3 linked regions of the Homo sapiens genome follow. The protein of the gene in region 1 interacts with the protein of each later gene in a biochemical or structural test. Each region holds a gene or a part of one and is shown on either strand. Other genes may lie near its edges. The genes, in order: ADAP1, PRKD1 and PRKCI.

Region 1 (7,113 bases):
GTCGAGTCCTGCCCCAGGACTCACGAGTCCTTTAAGAGAAAATGGCCATTTCTGGCCACAGCCCACCCGGCTGTCCAGGACGCTGCCGTGTGAGGGGCTGCTCTGTGGGGAGAAGCCCCGTCTCACTGGCTGTTGCTGGTGCCGACTGGGGGCTGCAGGCCCCTGAGGTCCTGGCCCTCCCCAGCGAGGCCAAGGGGCTGGCCAGGCATGGGGAGAGCAGAGGCTCAGCCTGAGGTCTGGACTGGGCGTGGGGCGCGTCCGGGACCGTGGCCAGCGCCGTCCTGAAATACACTCCTGCGTCGTCATTGCCCCTGGAATGCGGCGTCCTGGCGCCTGCTGTCGGGAGGACCGGGGTTCCCGCTGGCGCCTGCTGTCGGGAGGACCGGGGTTCCCGCTGGCGCCTGCTGTCGGGAGGACCGGGGTTCCCGCTGGCGCCTGCTGTCGGGAGGACCGGGGTTCCCGCTGGCGCCTGCTGTCGGGAGGACCGGGGTTCCCGCTGGCGCCTGCTGTCGGGAGGTCCGGGGTTCCCGCTGGCGCCTGCTGTCGGGAGGACCGGGGTTCCCGCTGGCGCCTGCTGTCGGGAGGTCCGGGGTTCCCGCTGGCGCCTGCTGTCGGGAGGACCGGGGTTCCCGCTGGCGCCTGCTGTCGGGAGGACCGGGGTTCCCGCTGGCGTCTGGACCCCGAGAACACCGGAGCAGCTGCGCGCGTGCAGAGGGGCAGTGGCCTCCCAGACCCCGCGGCCTGCGCGCTTCCGGAGCACTGCTGTCACCTGCTGGGCGCGGCGGGCATGGCAGGGGCGCGTCCCCACCCTGTGGCCTAGGGAGCCCGGTCGCTGGAAGGGGCCCCCGCTGTGTCCTGGGCAGGGGTCTGTGGAACCGACACACTGGACCCAGCCAGCTCCACCCCCGTGGGCGAGGTGGCCCAAACTTGTCGTCTGCATTGGTGACACGGACACGCACGCCTTGGAGGCTCCCCGGGGTGCACACAAGGCCGTGAGCGGCAGAGGCCGGGAAGCGCCGCTGGGCCCGCTGCTGCGATGCCTCCCCGGGCACTTCTCGGCGTCCACCCTCAGCCACGAAGCGCCGCGTCCAAAGAGGTCCTGATGTCGGAGGCAGAGCCGTGGGGACACCCAGCTGTGCCTGGGCAGGGGCTCACTGAGTCAACAGGCGTTCTGAGCAGGCCTTACTTGGGTCTGAGGGACACTGGTGGCCTCGCTCTCACAGTGAGAAGCAGGAGAAGGGGGTTCTTCCATGGGAAGGGGGCTCCTGGCTGCTGCTGTGCGCACGGGGCTGGGGCAGCAGCCTTGTAGAGGCTTGGGGAGCGGGGAGCTCCGGGCAGTGAGGGGAGCAGGCCCCGTCTGGCACCATCCAAGACAGCCCAGGGCCCCCTCCCCGAGGGCACCAGCTGTCCCCTCCCCAACGCCAGGCGTTTTATGGCTTGCATCTCAGCAGAGAAAATAGCCCCTGGTCTCTGGTGTCGGGATGGGGCTGTCTGAGCTGGGGAGGGGATGCTGGGGAGCAGGGGGCTTTGGTGGTCAGGGCTGATGGGCGGTGTCTGCAATCTGAGCCTCTGTCTGGCCTGTTGGCTGCTGCAGGGGGCTGTTTAGCCCCGCCTGGAGCCCACAGCCCCCTCGCGTCCCTGTGGCGTAGGTCAGCAGCCCCTGCCCTCAGATGACCGGGGCTCCCAGGCCACATGGCCAGCAGGATGGGATGCTGTCCCCAAGCAAGTGCTCTCTGAAGTCACTGAGGGGTCACGGACAGGCCCACGGATGCTCAGCAGACGGCCCCACGACCCCGGGAAGGGCCCACGGACACTGGGCAGACGGCCCCGCGACCCCTGGAGGGGCCACGGATGCTCGGCAGACGGCTCCTCGGCAGACGGCCCCGCGACCTCCGGAGAGGCGGCGCCCACTGGGGATGCTTGGCAGACGGCCCCGTGATCCCAGGAGAGTCTGCACCCACTGAGGACCTGCTCGACCCTGGCCACGCAGCTGCTGCCAACGGCGGGACCTGCACGCGACCCAAGGCCTGGCAGACGGAGCCCAGGACACGGATGCTGCAAGCCACATGCTGTTGGGGCGGGACAGCCAGGGCCATAGAAGAAGCTGCATCTGAGTCCGCAGGACACAGAGTTCCAGAGCAGGAGAAAGGACGGGCAACGATAGGAACCACGGACAGGGAGCAGAAGTGGGAGCGGGGCCTGGGGGGGATGGGAACGCCCCTCTGAGTGGCCACACGTGGGTCACTGACCGCAGCTCAGTGACGTGAAGCCACACGTGTTTGTTCTCCCACAGCTCTGGCAGAGCTCCAGGACGATCCCACGGGCCCGAGACTCGGAGTGGGCAGAGCTGGTTCTGGGCTCAGGACGGGTCCTCTGGCCTCTCCCTGGTGCTCCTGGGCTCTGGGGCCCCCTCTGGCCTCAGTTTCCACGGCCACGTCCCCTTCCCTCCTGTCCTCATATCTCTGCCTCCCTCCCCTGTGATCGTCTGCCACAGCAGCGTCCTAACCACCCGTGCACGGTGTGTTTTGCCATAGAAGGTGGCGTGTCCAGGTGCTTAGGCTCCCAGGGGGATGCCCGGGCTACTTTTCTGTGGCTGTGTGTGGTGTGCGTGAGGCCACAGGCGGAGATGAGGGCTTGAGCTGGACTCCCCTCAGATGAGCTTTCCTGAAAAAAGAGGGGATGGCACCACCTGGACCCAGCAGCTGCGGACGGCTGAGGGAGGAGGGAGGAGGCCAGCCTGGTCCTCCCGGGCAGCACGAGGTTGGACCCAGCCCTGCCTCTGCCCATGGTGGCTCTGGCCATGTCCACTCAGGATGGGGAGGGTCCCTGGGGGCCAGTAAAGGACAGCTGGAGTCCCGCTCATCCAGGCCGTCCTCAGGCTGGCTTGGGCCAGGGTTGCAGCCAACAGCGCTGGTCCACTGTCATATCCCCTCACCAACCATCCACCATCACCATCTGACCCATGTCCCCCCATGTCCCCTGTCCCGTCCCCCGTGTCCCCTGTCCCCCATGTCCCCTGTCCATGTCCCCTATGTACTCTGTCCCCCATGTCCCGTCCCCGATGTCCCGTCCCCCATGTCCATGTCCCCCGTGTCCCCTGTCCATGTCCCCTTTCCCGCCCCCTTTCTCCTTTCCCTTTCTCCTTTCTCCTTTCTCCTTTCCCTTTCTCCCTTTCTCCCTTCTCCTTTCTCCTTTCTCCTTTCCCTTTCTCCTTTCCCTTTCTCCCTTTCTCCCTTCTCCTTTCTCCTTTCCCTTTCTCCTTTCTCCTTTCTCCCTTTCTCCTTTCCCTTTCTCCTTTCTCCTTTCTCCTTTCTCCTTTCCCTTTCTCCTTTCTCCTTTCTCCTTTCTCCTTTCCCTTTCTCCCTTTCTCCTTTCCCTTTCTCCTTTCTCCTTTCTCCTTTCTCCTTTCTCTTTCTCCCTTTCTCCTTTCCCTTTCTCCTTTCTCCTTTCCCTTTCTCCTTTCTCCTTTCTCCTTTCTCCTTTCCCTTTCTCCTTTCTCCCTTTCTCCTTTCTCCCTTTCTCCTTTCTCCCTTTCTCCTTTCTCCCTTTCTCCTTTCCCTTTCTCCTTTCTCCTTTCTCCTTTCTCCTTTCTCCTTTCCCTTTCTCCTTTCTCCTTTCTCCTTTCCCTTTCTCCTTTCTCCCTTTCTCCTTTCTCCCTTTCTCCTTTCTCCCTTTCTCCTTTCTCCCTTTCTCCTTTCCCTTTCTCCTTTCTCCCTTTCTCCTTTCTCCTTTCTCCTTTCCCTTTCTCCTTTCTCCTTTCCCTTTCTCCTTTCTCCTTTCTCCTTTCTCCTTTCCCTTTCTCCTTTCTCCCTTTCTCCTTTCTCCCTTTCTCCTTTCTCCCTTTCTCCTTTCTCCCTTTCTCCTTTCCCTTTCTCCTTTCTCCTTTCTCCTTTCTCCTTTCTCCCTTCTCCCTTCTCCCTTCTCCCTTCTCCCTTCTCCCTTCTCCCTTCTCCCTTCTCCCTTCTCCTTTCTCCTTTCTCCTTTCTCCTTTCTCCTTTCTCCTTTCTCCTTTCTCCCTTCTCCCTTCTCCCTTCTCCTTTCCCTTTCTCCTTTCCCTTTCTCCTTTCTCCTTTCTCCTTTCTCCTTTCTCCTTTCTCCTTTCCCTTTCTCCTTTCTCCTTTCTCCTTTCCCTTTCTCCTTTCCCTTTCTCCTTTCCCTTTCTCCTTTCTCCTTTCTCCTTTCTCCTTTCTCCTTTCTCCTTTCTCCTTTCTCCTTTCTCCTTTCTCCCTTCTCCCTTCTCCCTTCTCCCTTCTCCCTTCTCCCTTCTCCCTTCTCCCTTCTCCCTTCTCCTTTCTCCTTTCCCTTTCTCCTTTCTCCTTTCCCTTTCTCCCTTTCTCCCTTTCTCCTTTCTCCTTTCTCTTTCTCCCTTTCTCCTTTCTCCTTTCTCCTTTCTCCTTTCTCCTTTCCCTTTCCCTTTCCCTGCCCATCTTCCTATCTCCCTGTCTCCTCCATGTCCCCTCTCCCCGTCCGTCTCCCCCTGTCCGTGTCCCCCGTCCGTGTCCCCCGTGTCTTCTCCCCATGTCCCCTCTGTCCTGTCCATCGTCACTCCTTTTGTTTCCTCCCCCCCATCCACTGTCACCGACTCGTGTCCCCTTTCCCCCACAGGGTACCGTGAGGGTTTTCTCTGGAAGCGTGGCCGGGACAACGGGCAGTTTTTGAGCCGGAAGTTTGTGCTGACAGAACGAGAGGGTGCTCTGAAGTATTTCAACAGAAATGATGTGAGTCACAGACGGGGGTGGGGTGGGGGCCTGTCCCAGGGCGGCATCCCGGCCTCCCACACTGGGGCCTGTGGTGGCCGCGTCCATCCGCAGCTGCCCTCCCTGCTGCCCCCCCCGATGGGGACGCTCCAGGAGAACCGGCCTGTGTTGGGCTGAGCCTCTGTGTGCCGGACCCAGCGTCCCCCAGGGTGGGGCAGCTGAGGCTTTCCAGGAGCCTGGGCGGCCGGGCGGGGCCCCCTGAACTCAGGCCCAGCCGTGGGAGAGGGAGAACCTAGTCACTGGGCCCCTCTGGAGCCAGCCAGGACCCCAGAAAGCCCCTAGTTTTCCTGGAGGTACCCTGGGGAGACTGGACTGGGACAGGACAAACACATTGGCAAGAACAGTGGGGTCTTCACAAGGTGGCCCCAGACCCATGGGCTGATGGTCAGAAGCACCCGCCCTGAGCCGTGGCGGGCACTGGCTGGAGGTGGGCTGGTGGCTGGGGCCTGCCCCTGTGGGAGCTGCCGTGCCGTGTGGGGCCCGGGGCTGCCCCCGGGGAGGGAGGTGCAGTGTCTGATGTCAAGTGCCACCTGCACAGTGTCGTTGAGGTCCCCATCACTCCTGGGAGGGAGGTGCTGTTACCTTCTGCTTACAGACCGGGAGGCCAAGGCTCAGAGCGCTTAAGTAACTTGCCCAAAGCCACACAGCACAGCAGGTGCGCCGCCAGCACCCACAGGGTCTGCCCTTCCTGCTCCCTTGAGCTTGGACGACGGCCCCTGTGAGGTGCTTAGACCCCACCCCTTCTCAGGCCAAGGAGCCCAAGGCCGTGATGAAGATCGAGCACCTGAACGCCACCTTCCAGCCGGCCAAGATCGGCCACCCCCACGGCCTGCAGGTCACCTACCTGAAGGACAACAGCACCCGTAACATCTTCATCTACCATGAGGACGGGAAGGTGGGTGCTGGCGAGCACTCGGGCCCGGGTGGCACAGGAGGGTGGGCCCTCAGGCCCGGGTGGCGCAGGAAGGTGGGTGCTTGGACGGTACGGGAGGGTAGGCACTTGAGCTAGGCGGCATGAGAAGGCGGGAAGTCGGGCTGGGCAGCGTGGGAAGGCGGGTGCTTGGACGTGTGGGAGTGTGGGCACTGGCGCCGGGCAGCATGGGAAGACAGGTGCAGGAAGGCAGCTTCCCAGGGCCGGGCTGCCCAGGAGCCGGATCACCACGCTGTCTCTGGGGCCACCCAGCTTGGCCCTGTCAGTGGGGGCTGCCAGCTCGGGCTAGAGGATCCACCGCCCCCACAATGCCCAGAGGGGACCTCGGGGGGAACTGGGGTCCTACGGGGAGGAGATGTGGACGGTAGCCGGCTCTGGGGTGGTTTGGGTAGGGTTCCTTTGGCTGCCCTTGGTGTGGCGGCGGGGAGGGTGGGTGTACCCCGCATCTCTGGAGGGCTTGGGGGGAACCCAGGTAAAACCCCCACAAAAGCTATCCTTTTGTCTTTGGGCCAGGCTGCAGGGGGCGCAGCGGTGGGCCCAGCCTCTTTGTTACTTAGGTTCTTGTTTCTATGTTTATCACACGTCTGTGTGCACACGGTCTAAAGCGCTATATCGTTCCTAAATCTTGAGAAACAGAAGTTTGAGGTCCCTCCTAACCCCCGTTGGGAATTGGTCCCCATATCCAAAAATAAGCTGCCGGTGTCGCTGCAGATTTACCCACTTTAGGCACCATCTGACAACTTCCCACGTGGAAGTAGAGGTTCCAGCTCTTTCCATCCCCTCCCACGTGCCCGTCCCCTGCCTGCCGTGCTCCGCTGGCATCTGACCCTGGGTTTGTTAGGGGGCCGAGTCGGGTGCAGCCCCTGGCCTCAGAGCACGCTGTGATCGCTCTTCCCACAGTAAGCGGCTGTGTTCCTTGCCGCAGTTGACCATGTGTTGCCGCAGACTCTCCGCAGACTGTTGTCTCTGGAGGCAGTCGGGCACCAGGAGCCTGCGACTCCCACGGCCTGGAGATCTCGCTCCTGCAGCCTCATCTGGTTCCTGGGTGGAGCCCTGCTGCCCGGGTCCTACGTCTTTCTCGTTTACTTATTCCTCTTGGTAGAAGTGATGTGCCTGGAGGGAAAGGGGTCACCTGGCACCTTGGACTGTTCTACCTCCTGCCTGGCTTAGACTGTGGCTAGATATAGAATTCTAGGTTGGAATTAATTTTCCTGCTAATTCTGAAGGCTTTGCACCACGGATTCCTCCATCCTAGTACGTTTGTCCCGCGGTTTTGAAATTCTCCAATGCTGTGCGTGTGTTGGCAAGGGTCCCTCGTCTTTTCATGTGCTGGGTACAGGCCCAGGGTGGCCCTTCCAGTCCAGTTACTGGTTTCCATGAGGTCAGGGATTGCTTTCTTATCTAATGATTTCCTCCCTCCACTTT
Region 2 (5,982 bases), on another chromosome or scaffold:
TAATTACAATTTTTTTTCTGTTACATAGTATGCTATTCCCATCCTGCTACTAAGGAAAACAGCCCACATTATTCATATTATATACCTCAAATCTGCTAGGTCCAATTTGTCTTCTCCAGGCTGTAGAACTTCACTTGAGATGCCTTTCTGTTTAGGGATTACTTTCTAGTATTTTTTGGTTCACCTCAGAACCATCTTTAGATCATATGAAAAGAAACCAGATCTGGTATTCTAATAAATCTCTAGCTTATATTGACTAAATCAGGAAGCTACATTAAGATGCTATTTGCAATATTCCAACTACTCAGAGTCATCCTAACTATGCCTCCAAGCACTCTGTTTGGCTTTGGTCACTTTTCACTTTGAAAGCCTTCCTTTCTATTAGAAATTAAACCACATGCAAGACAGGAAGGCCTCACTCCACTTTGAAACATACTTTTACTGCTTCAGAGTAGATAAAACTACATTCTACACTATGAGCTTTTTTCCTGCTTTTTGAGCAGACACTTCTGCTCCTAGTTGGCCTGAAAACCCTAGTGTGAACGATGAATGAAAATAGTTCAATGAGGTGGACACATATTTTGACAAGAATATTTTTTATTATTGAAAAATACACAAAGGTGAAAGGTTGCTGAGCAGCTGATTTTCCATAGTACAACAGAGTATTATAAGAAAGAGGGAAATGTATCTGTTATATATGGCAGTTTACATTTCTAAGGCATTTAGGCTTAAGAGCACTAGGTCTTGCACAGCTAGGTGCATTGTCTTGAGTTTAAATATACTGAGGCACACCAGGCAGGCAAAGGATTCAAAACTATACATTAAAACTTGTTCATGCATTTGTGTCTTAGGATTTTATTCCCTACCCTCCTCATTCATTTTTTTCCCACATGGGTTTTGGAGTTGTTCATAGAACACTGGAAATAATCGACTCTTCAAGAGTTTGTTTACAATGACAACACCAATGGGACACACCAAACAGAACTACTTCACAGATACATTCTGTCTCTTACCAAAATGAAGCTCCAGTAAGAAAAACACTGATTTGCAAAGGCACAGTGGAGACAGGTTTAATGCATTAAATATAACATGAATCATTCACAATAACAAGTTTCGTGTTTCAGGGAACTTTTGTTAATACAACACAGTTGGTCACACAAAATACAAATGCTTCTGTTGATTTGTCTTGGCAACTCAGATACATCAACAGTGCTAACAGTTTAACAGCTTTGTTCTCATCTGACAGAAAATAATGGCAGTTCTGCAAGGCAAATGTTAAACCTGACCGTATGTATTTATTAGTTCCACAGTGTTTTGACAGATTATAGGAGATGGAACTCAGAGGATGCTGACACGCTCACCGAGGGCTTTCATTTCTGTTTCTTCAGTCTCAGGAGTGTCACTGTGGCTAGCACTTGGATTGATCAGGTGTGTGGGGTACTGCAGCCCCTGCTCGCCTGCATACTTCTCCCACCTCAGGTCATCACTTTCATGGGTGATGTAGCGCTCCCCGATTTTGCATTCCAGCTCTCGCAAATCTAACCAGGTCTGATAGTCCTGAAGAAGAAATTCCAAAATATTACCATAGAGATCATTACAACTCAACATACTGTTTCATATGATGTCAGTTTCTGCAATCTATGAGTTACCCTTCTCCTTCCACTCTAACAGCGCTGAATCTTTCATCACGCATCCTCAAGTGACAGTGTCGGCACCAAAGCCATCCTATTTGTCTAACCTTTGCAAATACATACTGTTTATAAGATAGCATGGATCAAAGAGTGGGCAATTAATGTTTGCAGTCAAGCAATCAGGAATGCCAGTATTCCTTTGAAATTTAATGCCTACAAATAATCTTTCAGTATTTCAGAGTATTAGTTTCCTAAAGTTTAAATTCGATGTGAAAATAATAAAGCACATCCATATACTTTGTATTTGCCATGCATTTGTTCCATATATAATAACCTAGCATTTAAAAATATAGCTTCTAAATGAGTACAGTGCATGACCAGATGGGCATCTATTTGTACATTTATCAGGATTACACATACAGATGCTTTTGAAATCTGGTCCTCTGAGGTCTGTTATGATCCTTGGTTTATTTATTTATTTTTGGTTTTGCCTTTTGGTTTTGGGCTGTGTGTGTGTGTGTATATGCGTGCGTGTATCTCTTCTATCAAATTATCCTGGTAGAGAAAAATGTTTAGAAACACTAAATTGTTATTAAATCCTATGAAGTTGCATGCATTTGAGCAAATAAATTGATATTAGAATAATCACACTTTAAAAATTATTGCAAAAGATTTCTAAATATCAAAATCCTATAAATATTTAGAAGCTCATTCAACTAAGAAAACTCAGTGATTATTGTTTACCTGTAGCCAAGGGTGGCTCAAGGTCTTATCCACACTGTAGCGCTTTCTCATTTTTACTTGCAGCAAATTGTTGATAAGATCAATGGCTGAAAAAAATTACCAGTAAAAATAGATGACAAATCTGTAACATATGCATAATTCATTTATAGTTTATTTCACATCTGCTATTTCACACAGTTAAATGCAGCATAGTGACAAGGCACTAGAACCAAAAAAAAAAATCCTCTTAAGAATACTGAAACTTTGGCCTTCATTTTATTTTGGATACTAAAAAAAAAAAAAAAAAAAAAAAAAAAAGAAGAAGTTGGAAGTAATTATGGAAGAAGTATTAGAGTCTATTGTATGATATGAATTTCAATTGGTCTACTCTTTAACACTTTCTTTAATTTAGAAATTTTGTTTATATGTACATCATTTAAATATGTCTTACAATATGGGCAGGATAAAACTAATATTCAAGATAAAGCATTTACTAATTTTGTTATAAAACATGCTGAACGTTTGAATACACACAATGGTTCACACAGTATTGAATTAAATGACAGATATCTGAACATCATATTTGTATGGAAAAAATGCATCATAACATGGGTCATATCTCATGATAAACTTGGAGCCTGAAAACCAACAGCCCAAGAAGAAAACACTTTAATTGCTTTCACTTTGCTTTTGCTTTCAAAAATAACCAATGTATTGGAATTATATCAGCCTTCATAGACTTTCTAGAGGAAGACAGGAAAGAAGTCTATTTAACAAGAAATGTTCTCTGAGGGGTTAGAACCACAATCCCTCTGGCCTAGTACTCTGCTTGTGACTGGGGAGTCTGTGAGTGTAATTTATGAAGAAAAAGTAATACTCATCGTTATCTAGTCTGAAAATCATCCTAGTTACCCACAGTATCATGTGATGGAGTTCTCACTCTCCTTTTCTGGACATTATATTTTCAGTATACGTCATTAATAGTTCATTATTTATTAAAGTCATTCCCTCACACTTCTCATTCTTGTAATAACTTCCATGTTTCTCTTTTTGAATTTTAGCATTTTCTTCCCAAAAAGAGCTTAGTGAAATCTGCCAACCTAATAGGAAGCATTTATATTTCAAAGAGTTAATTTTTGCCCTTAACCTACCCTAGGCATTATGTCTGAAAGATGGCTCTTCCTACCAAAAATCTTAATCAAACAGGCAGCTGATAAACGAAAATGAAAATTAACTCCTCATCTTTCCCTATCACCAAGTCTTGAATAGGCAGCTTTGAATCCACTTTTTGGTGTGCATCAACCTGTATGGACCTGAAGATACAGACTGTCACATGAGACCAGAGGAACAAAGACTGCTTCCTTCAATCAGAATCCTTCCCAGTGTCAGGCAAAGAAAAGTGACTTCTACAGTCTTTTGGTAATTGAGAACCATATCTCTATGGAGCTAATGTTACAAGTATTTGCCTGCCCTGAAGGGCTGTAGAGTCAAATATCAAACAATTATTTGGAGAAATGAAATGCAACAACACACATTTAAATGTTGCCTATGCCTATACACTCTTGCCTTACCTAGGATACCTGAAGAAATACAGTACTCAGTACATTTTCATATTCCAAGCATGTGTTCTCAGAGAGCTTTTAAAAGTATAGTTCTGTGAACTGCGTATAGGGCATGTGCTTTAAAATATCCATTCACATGATTTACTCACTGGTGAGTAAAGTGCACCTTCCATTCTTGCTGCTGTGAAGTCACCCGGCAAAAATGGAGGACAAGGAGTGAAGGGAGAGCTTATGTGCTATTGCAAGCTTGCTGCAGCATTACACTGCCCTAGACACTGCAGGAAATAAATTCATGTCATTAATTCACTCATTCTGTTTGGAATTCTGTAATTAGAAAGGCAGGAGTACAGTAACTCAACAAAAGGTCTCGTTTGTGCCCAAATGGGCCCCAACAGTGAACCACACTGCATAATGGGGAGGGAAGTACTATCAGAGGGGAAACTAGAAGTGTCTGAAGGGAATGGAATAAGTAAAAATGAAAAAATTGTTCTGCTGAATGAAGCATACAATCATTAGTCTGACTACGCCACAGTACCCAACCCAAGTGACCTGAGTAAGCACAACAAGGCAATGGCAACTACTTCCAAGAGAAAATGGTTAAGGATATAAGGAGAGAATTAGAGGAGAAACGTGTATGTATAAATAAATGTGTGTGTGTGTGTATACATACATTTTGTGGCTTTTGGAAGCACACAACAGAAATAATGAACTATTAAATGTTAGCACCTATAGCTAAATGTTGGGACCACGGTATTAGTGAGAAAATAGGTCCGTCATTTGTAGTTGAGAATTCTGTTCTGCTTGTTACTTTTCTGGAACTCTTAAAATATCCTTTTTATTAATCAAGTTGTATACAATCCAGCATTAACTATACCATCCAAAATGCGTTTTACTAAACATTTTTGAACACAGTTTAGAGGCTTTTTTCCTTCCAATATTCTCTTTACTGGCCATGTCTACATTGATACAATATTCATGTAATAAAATAGTCTCAGATGTATTATGTATGTATAAATCATTCATTTATCTGTTCATTCACCAAATCTTCCTTAATTCCTGTTGGCAATTACTTATGAAATAAAAAGTTAATGATCAAGCCCTGACCCCGAAAAGCTCACAATCTAGTTGCAAAGGCACATGCATGCCCCTCCCCAGACCACAGATGACATCATGACACAATACACCATTCTGAATCTTTGACCTTTAATTCATATCCTACTCAAAGCAAAAAAAAAAAAGTGTTTTCTTTTTATAACTTACTGTCATTAGTCCTATTTATGTTTTAGATGCAATGGAAAACTTTATTCTATATGACAGTTCTTTACATCTTTGGAGACAGTGATTCATTCCCCTTAATCTCACCTCTATAGTTCCTTCAGATCTTTCAGCCTGCTTAGTCCTCCTGTACACCTCGATTTTAATAGTCACTAGCTCTACTCAATGTCCCTGTTAAAATTCAGTGATCATCACTGACCAACATTTTCCTCACTAACTGCCAATTTGAATTATACGCAAATATATTATTCATATAGTCTAGGATTGAGGGGTTTTCATTCTTTTTTAAAAAATTACATTCATATTCTTATTTAGTCCTTATAACAACCCCCTGAAAGTAGTTATTATTTTAATCTCCATTTTAATAAAAGGAAAACGTGACGCTTCAAAAGGCCATGTAAGTTGGTCAAAGTCAGACAGCTCCTAGGCAATACAGCTGAATTTGAAACCCAGGGGGACTGGAATTCAAAGCCTGTGCTCTTAAACACTATGGCAGACTGCAGCCATATTATGCCATTAACTTATCATTGTAAGTGGATAATTATCTCAAAAATTAACATTTTATTTTTACAGTCATGATAATTACATTCTTAGTTATGTTTCCACCACACTTTTATGTGCTTGAACGCAAGGATGTGTGTGTATGTGTATGTACATCTCTGTGACCATAGCTCTGCCTCATATCGTTAATTCTCCTAGCTTTCTGTCATGCTCACACCGAATAAGCCCATCTGCTATGTATTAATACAATTATTAGAACTTTTTTCAGGATAAGGCCTAAACATAGGGCT
Region 3 (7,113 bases), on another chromosome or scaffold:
GTCATTGCACTCTAGCCTGGGTGATGGAGGAAGACACTGACTCAAAAAATGAAAAATAAATGAAAATAAATGAGTGCAGCCAGGCAAGGTGGCTCATGCCATAATCCCAGCACTTTGAAAGGCCAATGTGGGAGGATCGCTTCGGTACAGGAGTTCGAGGCCTGCCTGGGCAACACAGGGAGACCTTGTCTCTACAAAAAAATTAAAAATTAGCCAGACATAGTGGTGTGTGCCTACAGTCCCAACTACTTGGGAGGCTGAGGTAGGAGGACTGCGTGAGCCTGGGCAGTTAAGGCTGCAGTGAGCTGTGATTACACCACTGTACTCAGCCTGGGTGACAGAGTAGAAATGTGCCTCAAAAAAAAAAAAAGTGCAAAATACTTATCATGGTTCTTTTTCTTTTGTTCCACTTTTTTCAGTTGAGTTTTTTTTGAGACAGAGTCTCGCTCTGTCACCCAGGTTGAAGTGCAGTGGCACAATTACAGGCGTGAGCCACCACACTCGGCCTCAGTAACATTTCTGAATAACACTAACTTTAATTCTTTAAAAGCTTTTTTCTTTAATTGACAGAAATTTTTCTATTATATTTCACTAAGATAAGAGATTATTACTATAATTCAATACTGTCTAGAAAATTCTAGCCTATGGCTAAAAATAAATAAGGCTGGGCGCAGTGGCTCACACCTGTAATCCTAGCACTTTGGGAGGCCAAGGTGGGTGGATTACCTGAGGTCAGGCGTTCGAGACCAGTCTGGCCAACATGGCGAATCCCCATCTCTACTAAAACTACAAAAATTAGCCAGGTGTGGTGGTGCACGCCTGTAATCCTAGCTACTCAGGAGGCTGAGGCAGGAGAATCACTTGAACTTGGGACGCGGAGGTTGCAGTGAGCCGAGATCACGCCACTACACTCCAGCCTGGGCGACAGAGTGAGACTCTGTCTCAAAAAACATAAAATAAATAATAAATAAATAAATAAGATATAGAAAAGAAGAGGCAAAATTGCTACTTGCAGATGACATTATCTAGCTTAAAAATTCTAAGACAGTTAAATTATTAGTAAGGTGGAAAGTTTAATTTAAACATACAAAAAGAAAACAGTATGTAATAGGTCTACAAGAAGACCCCATTCACAAAAGCACATGATTATAAAATATATAGGAATAGGCCGGGCACGGTGGCTCAAGCCTGTAATCTCAACACTCCGGGAGGCCGAGGCAGATGGATCACCTGAGGTAAGGAGTTCCAGACCAGCCTGGCCAACATGGTGAAACCCCATTTTCACTAAAAATACAAAAATTAGCCAGGCATGGTAGCGCCTTGCCTGTAATCCCAGCTACTTGAGAGACTGAGACTGGAGAATCGCTTGAACCTGGGAGGCGGAGGTTGCAGTGAGCCAAGATCACGCCACTGCGCTCCAGCCTGGGTGACAGTGCAAGGCTCCATCTCAAAAAAAAAAAAAACAAAAAAAAAAAATTAAATAATGAATCAAGCCATTCCATAACATATATCAAAGTTAACTATAATATTACAATAATTAAACCAATAGTGGTATGTGCAAAAATAGATCTCTCCCCTAAAATCAATGAAACAATAGAAAGTACCTACGCACATTGTGGGAAATTTAGTACATAACAGAGTTACCATTTCAAATCAGTGGTGAAAGGACAATCTGCCCAATAATGGTATTAGAATAAATTTTGGAGAAAAAAAAAGTTGTGTCAGTACCCTATAAATGACTAAACCCCAAAATACCAGATTCACTGAAAAGATAATCACTTTAAAAGTTTCATAATAAGCCAGGCGCAGTGGCTCACGCCTAAAATCCCAGCACTTCGGGAGGCCACAGCGGGTGAATCACTTGAGGTCACGAGTTTGGGACCAGCCTGGCCAACATGGCAAAACCCTGTCTCTACTAAAAATAAAAAATTAGCCGGACATGGTGGCGCATGCCTGTAATCCCAGCTACTTGGGAGGCTGAGGCAGGAGAATCACTTCAACCCAGGAGGCAGAGGCTGCAGTGAGCCAGGATCGTGCCACTGCACTCCAGCCTGGGCGACTGAGCAAGACCTTGTCTCAAAAAACAAACAAAAATTAGCCGGGTGTTGTGGCGTGCGCCTATAATCCCAGCTACTTAGGAGGCTGAGGCAGGAGGATTGTTAGAACCCAGGAGGCAAAGGTTGCAGTAAGACGAGATCACGCCACTGGGTTCTACCCTGGGCAACAAAGCAAGACTCTGTCTCAAAAAAAAAAAAAAAAAAGTTGCATAATAGAAGAAAAATAGAATATTTTTAGATGAAAAACACTTTTACCTAAGACAGTAAATCCAGAAACTATCAAGGAAATTTTTAAAAAGGACAGGTTTGATGACATAAAAACGAAAAACTCCAGACTAGCAACAGATTGGGGAAATGCTGGCAACTTTAACAAAATGTCAATGTCCTGTCAACAAATTAATAAGAAAAATAATACAATAGAAAATGGGTAAAATAGGAACAATCCAGAAGAAATACAAATGATCATTAATATATAAAAGATACTTGTAAAAATAAATTACCATTTTTTGCCAATCTGACAGTCAAAAATTTAAAAGACAGATAACATGCAATGGGAATATAAGGCAGAAGCTTCACTAGTCCTGTTGTTAAGAATGTAAATTAAGCTCTTTTGGGAAACAATATCATATTTCAAGATAGGCATATCTTTGACCATATTTACAAGAATATGTATTAAATATAAGGAGGTTCCTTCAACATTATTTGAAATAGTGAGTTGATGAAGACAACTTTAAATGTTCATCAATCCGAAAAAAGATTAAACATATTATGGTGGCTGGGCGCAATGGCTCATGCCTGTAATTTCTACACTTTGAGAGGCCGAGGCAGGAGAATCACTTGAGCACAGGAGCTTGAGACCAGCCCCGTCCCTACAAAACATATTAAAAAAAATTAGCTGAGCCTAGTGGCGTGAGCTAATCCTAGCTACTCAGGAGGCTGAGGTGGGAGGACTGCTTGAACCCAGAGTGGTTGAGGCTGCAGAGGGCCTAGATCATGCCACTGCACTCCAGCGTAGGCAACAGAATCAGACTCTGTCTCTTAAAACAACAACAACAACTGTAGAACACTGTATTACCAACTATAAAGAGGTCTGTCTACCCTGGAATGAAAAGATGACCACGATTTTTAAAATCAAGTTGCAGATGCATGTGTGGAAATATGAACTCATTTATTGGAAAAATAAAAGGGTATGTCTGTGTGTGTGTATGCACATACATATCTATACTTATAAATATACCGATATGATATAGAATATCCCTAACTGTTAACAATGGCTATCTCTAGAAAGTGGGAGTGAGACAGCCATAAAAAATAATGAAATCACGTCTTCTACACCAGCATGGATGGAACTGAAGGCCATTATCCCTAGTCAAAAAAATCAGAAACAAAAAGCCAGATACCACATATTCTCACTTATAAGTGAGAGCTAAACAAAGGGTACACATGGACATAAAGAGGGAATAGTAGACATTGGAGACTACAAAAGGTGGGAGGGGGGTGAGGGTTGAAAAATACCTATCGGGTACAGGTAATTTTCTGGGTTTTACTGTTTACTGTTCCGGTGATGGGTACACTAAGTGACCAGACTTCATGGCTACATGATACAAACATGTAAGAAAGAAAGAAATCTGCACTTGTACCCTTTAAATATATAAAAATAAACTAATAAAATAAAATAAGGTGGGAGTGAGAGACTACAGGGGAACTTTATATGTGTGTGTATGTATATGTGTGTGTGTGTGTGTGTGTGTGTATATATATATATATTTGTGTGTGTGTATGTCTGTGTGTGTGTGAGACAGGGTCTCACTCTGTTGCCCAGGCTGGAGTGCAGTGGTGCAATCACAGCTCACTGCAGCCTTGACTTCCTGGCCTCAGGTGATTCTCCCACCTCGCCCTCCTAGTAGCTAGGACTACAGGCTAATTTTTTTGTAGAGATAGGGTTTCACCACATTCAGCCCAGGCTGGTCTCCAATTCCTGGGCTCAAGTGATTCACCTGCCCTGACCTCCCAAAGTGCTGGGATTACAGGCATGAACCACCATACCCAGCCTCTTTCTGTATTTCTATATTTTTAAAATTTAGTTTTAGTGCCTTGCCTTTGTGATCTGTATTTGGCCACTGGTGTCATTTTTGTTTCTATTATCGTTCTCAGCCACATTCCTACATAGGTTAGCTGTCAAGCACAGTGCTTGCAACACAGAGTAGACAGACAATAAATAATTGCTCCATTCTTTCTGACATTTCCTCCTGAATGCCTCATAAACACCTAGAACTCAAAATTCAGTGAATTGTTCCAGCCAATTAATTAACTTCTCCCACAAATCTCTTCCACATTCCCCAGTCTCTCTTAAACGAGAAACCTATGAGTTGTCCAACTCCCGTCACCCCTACAAGACTATCTTTAATTCTACTGATACTACCCCTTAAAATTTCCACCGAATCCATACACTCTTTTCTCTCTCCTTAAAATATCTCATCTGGACTACTTCAAAAGCCTCCAAATTAGTTTCATCCATCACCAATCCATCTCCCATACTAATTTCAAGTGTTATCTTTCTAAAATGCAAATCTGATCATGTATTTCTCTTACTTAGAATTTTCATCAATGAGAAAAAGTCTAAACTCTGCAGTATGACATTCAAGGGTCTTTACAATCTAGCCCCTGTGAACTTTCTTAGCCTCATTTCTCATCAGTGCCCACTTCATACTTTATATCCTAATAAGGAATGAATATGAGACTAACAGCCAAAGTGATCTTAATTCTGCAAACTTACCATGTGGTTGTTTAATGCCTATAACACCCACCTAACATCATTATTCACCAGGCAAACTCCTAGTTATCCTTTAAAAGCCTCAGACATTTCCTCTAGGAAGGCTTCCATCACCCCAAACTCCTCCCCAACGTCTATTCCTGCAAATACCTTACATAGGTACTTCAAATTAAATTGTTTCTATTGTAACTCTTATATGTCCTTCCCTCCACAAGTCTCTTAATTCCTTAAAGGCAGAGCCTTACCTACCTCTACATTCTCTGTGCCTACGACAGCATCATGTGCCTGGATTACGGACGTTCAACAATATTTACTAAACTCAGTTTGAATGATCTCTGGTTATATTTGAAATCTTAAGCAAGACTGGAATTTTTAAAATCTATGTTTAAATTAGGCTCATTTCAATCATAAAAAAAACAGACACTAAAGTTGTAAAAGGAGGGCTGCAGTTGCATTAGAAAGCCATCATGAACTAAGGACCTGTGGGGAGAATTTTTCTGTGCAGAGTTGCTCCTTTCTCCTTTGCTTCCTCAGTTTCTGCTTCTTCACATCTTTCATTTGCACATTGTCAGTTCTGGCCTCGCCAGACTCTCCCTCCAACTCCAGCTTCAGTTCCCAGTGCTGACCAATTTTATCTCCATATTTTCTCATTCAAATTTCTGAGGGTTTTTTGTGTTTGGTTTGGGTTTTTTGGCACCAGGCTAGCATGCTCTATTTTTTTCTCTCTTTGGCCAAGCTATGGATCAGCTGCCCTAGGATTAGGTGCCATGGCTGAAGCTCTAAGACCAATTAGCTAACATCCCCCCAACCCTCAAGATACCACTTGTATTTCCTCAGAACCATTACTAAAGTATATTGCTAAAATAATCTTGCATTTCTTTCAAAAACAAGTCTTGCCAAGACTTGTTCACAGTAAGAAAAATCCTACATACTTCTTCACTGAAGCAGCTATTCCAAATATGCAAAGAGTTAATCTTTTATTTCTAGATGTGCACAGAAGGAATCCTCTGTATTGTTATTACTACTTGACAGCAGCGGTTTAAAAAGAACTTTCACAAGCTTTCTGCAAAAATTTCCATACATATATAATGTAAAGAAATGAGCAGTCCAGATGTTGCCTTGTTAAAGTCTATCCCATAATAGCAAGTAATTTTATATAAGGATAAGCACATACATTGACAGTTTATCACTAATTAATGAAACCTGTTTCTCTTCCTCCAAACTACTAGCACTAGGTAATAACTGAAGGCCCCTCACTGAAAAGCTTCCTTGCTAGGAAAAGACGGGTGCAGGCCATGAGAAAGGCATCTAAGTAAGATGTGGTGTCCAATAAAATTGAATTTTCAGTGCTATTAATCTCTTGCTTAAAAACTAGATGTAAATTGGCTGGGCAAGATGGCTCATTCCTGTAATCCCAACACTTTGGGAGACCGAGGTGGGTGGATCACTTGAGGTCAGAAGTTGGGAGACCAACCTGGCCAACATGGTGAAAACCCGTCTCTACTAAAATACAAAAATTAGCTGGGCGTGGTGGTGGGCGCCTGTAGTCCCACCTACTCGGGAGGCAGCCGCAGGAGAATCCCTTGAACCTGGGAGGCGGAGGTTGCAATGAGCCGAGATCACGCCACTGCACTCCAGCCCAGGTGACAGAGCGAGACTCCATCTCCAAAAAAATAAATAAATAAAATAAAATAAAATAAAAATTAGAAAAAAATTAAATGTTATTAGATCTAGAGAGATTACACGTTTTCACTGAGATCAAGCTTAACAGAATAATAACACTATACACATCTTTGAAAAGAGAGGGCAATTTTTTCACTAAAAAAAATGCTGGCTATTAAATGAGTCAACATTCACTGGAAAGAAATATTGTTAGAAAAGGGTAGTGGAGCCAGGTACAGTGGCTCACACCTGTAATCCCAGCACTTTGAGAGGCTGAGGCAGGAGGATCACTTGAGCCCAGGAGTTTGGGATTAGCCTGGGCAACACGGTGAGACCTTGTCTCTATTTAAAAAAAAAAAAAAGAAAAGAAAAGTGTAGAGGGATAGAGGAAATGCTATGTAATAATGGCCCTTCAGAAGATTGGAGAGAAAAGAAAACTTTTTCAAATGCAGAATGTTCTCACATTTCTTGGTATAAAGGAAGGATTTTCTATTTTAAAATCAGGTAGGTGTTCTAGTTAGCCAACCTGTTTATTAACTATCCTTGTCCGTGACTCATTTTAGCTTCATCTATATTAATGAGCAGCTGACTATGTAATACCACAATCATCAGTTTAGACTA

The links.
Region 2: the proteins of ADAP1 (region 1) and PRKD1 form a complex in vitro, tested with the Homo sapiens proteins (one study listed by BioGRID).
Region 3: the proteins of ADAP1 (region 1) and PRKCI form a complex in vitro, tested with the Homo sapiens proteins (one study listed by BioGRID).

The regions. Positions count from the first base shown.
Region 1 is NC_000007.14:902,665-909,777, reverse strand, and holds part of ADAP1 (arf-GAP with dual PH domain-containing protein 1), read left to right. Parts: intron 1-4,605; coding exon 4,606-4,718; intron 4,719-5,505; coding exon 5,506-5,652; intron 5,653-7,113. UniProt on the Homo sapiens protein: GTPase-activating protein for the ADP ribosylation factor family. Binds phosphatidylinositol 3,4,5-trisphosphate (PtdInsP3) and inositol 1,3,4,5-tetrakisphosphate (InsP4). Regulates the incorporation of CD63 and CD9 into multivesicular bodies.
Region 2 is NC_000014.9:29,575,900-29,581,881, forward strand, and holds the end of PRKD1 (serine/threonine-protein kinase D1), read right to left. Parts: intron 4,192-5,982; exon of another isoform or gene 4,066-4,191; intron 2,462-4,065; coding exon 2,376-2,461; intron 1,558-2,375; coding exon 1,339-1,557; 3' UTR 580-1,338; downstream 1-579.
Region 3 is NC_000003.12:170,225,314-170,232,426, reverse strand, and holds part of PRKCI (protein kinase C iota type), read right to left. Parts: intron 1-7,113.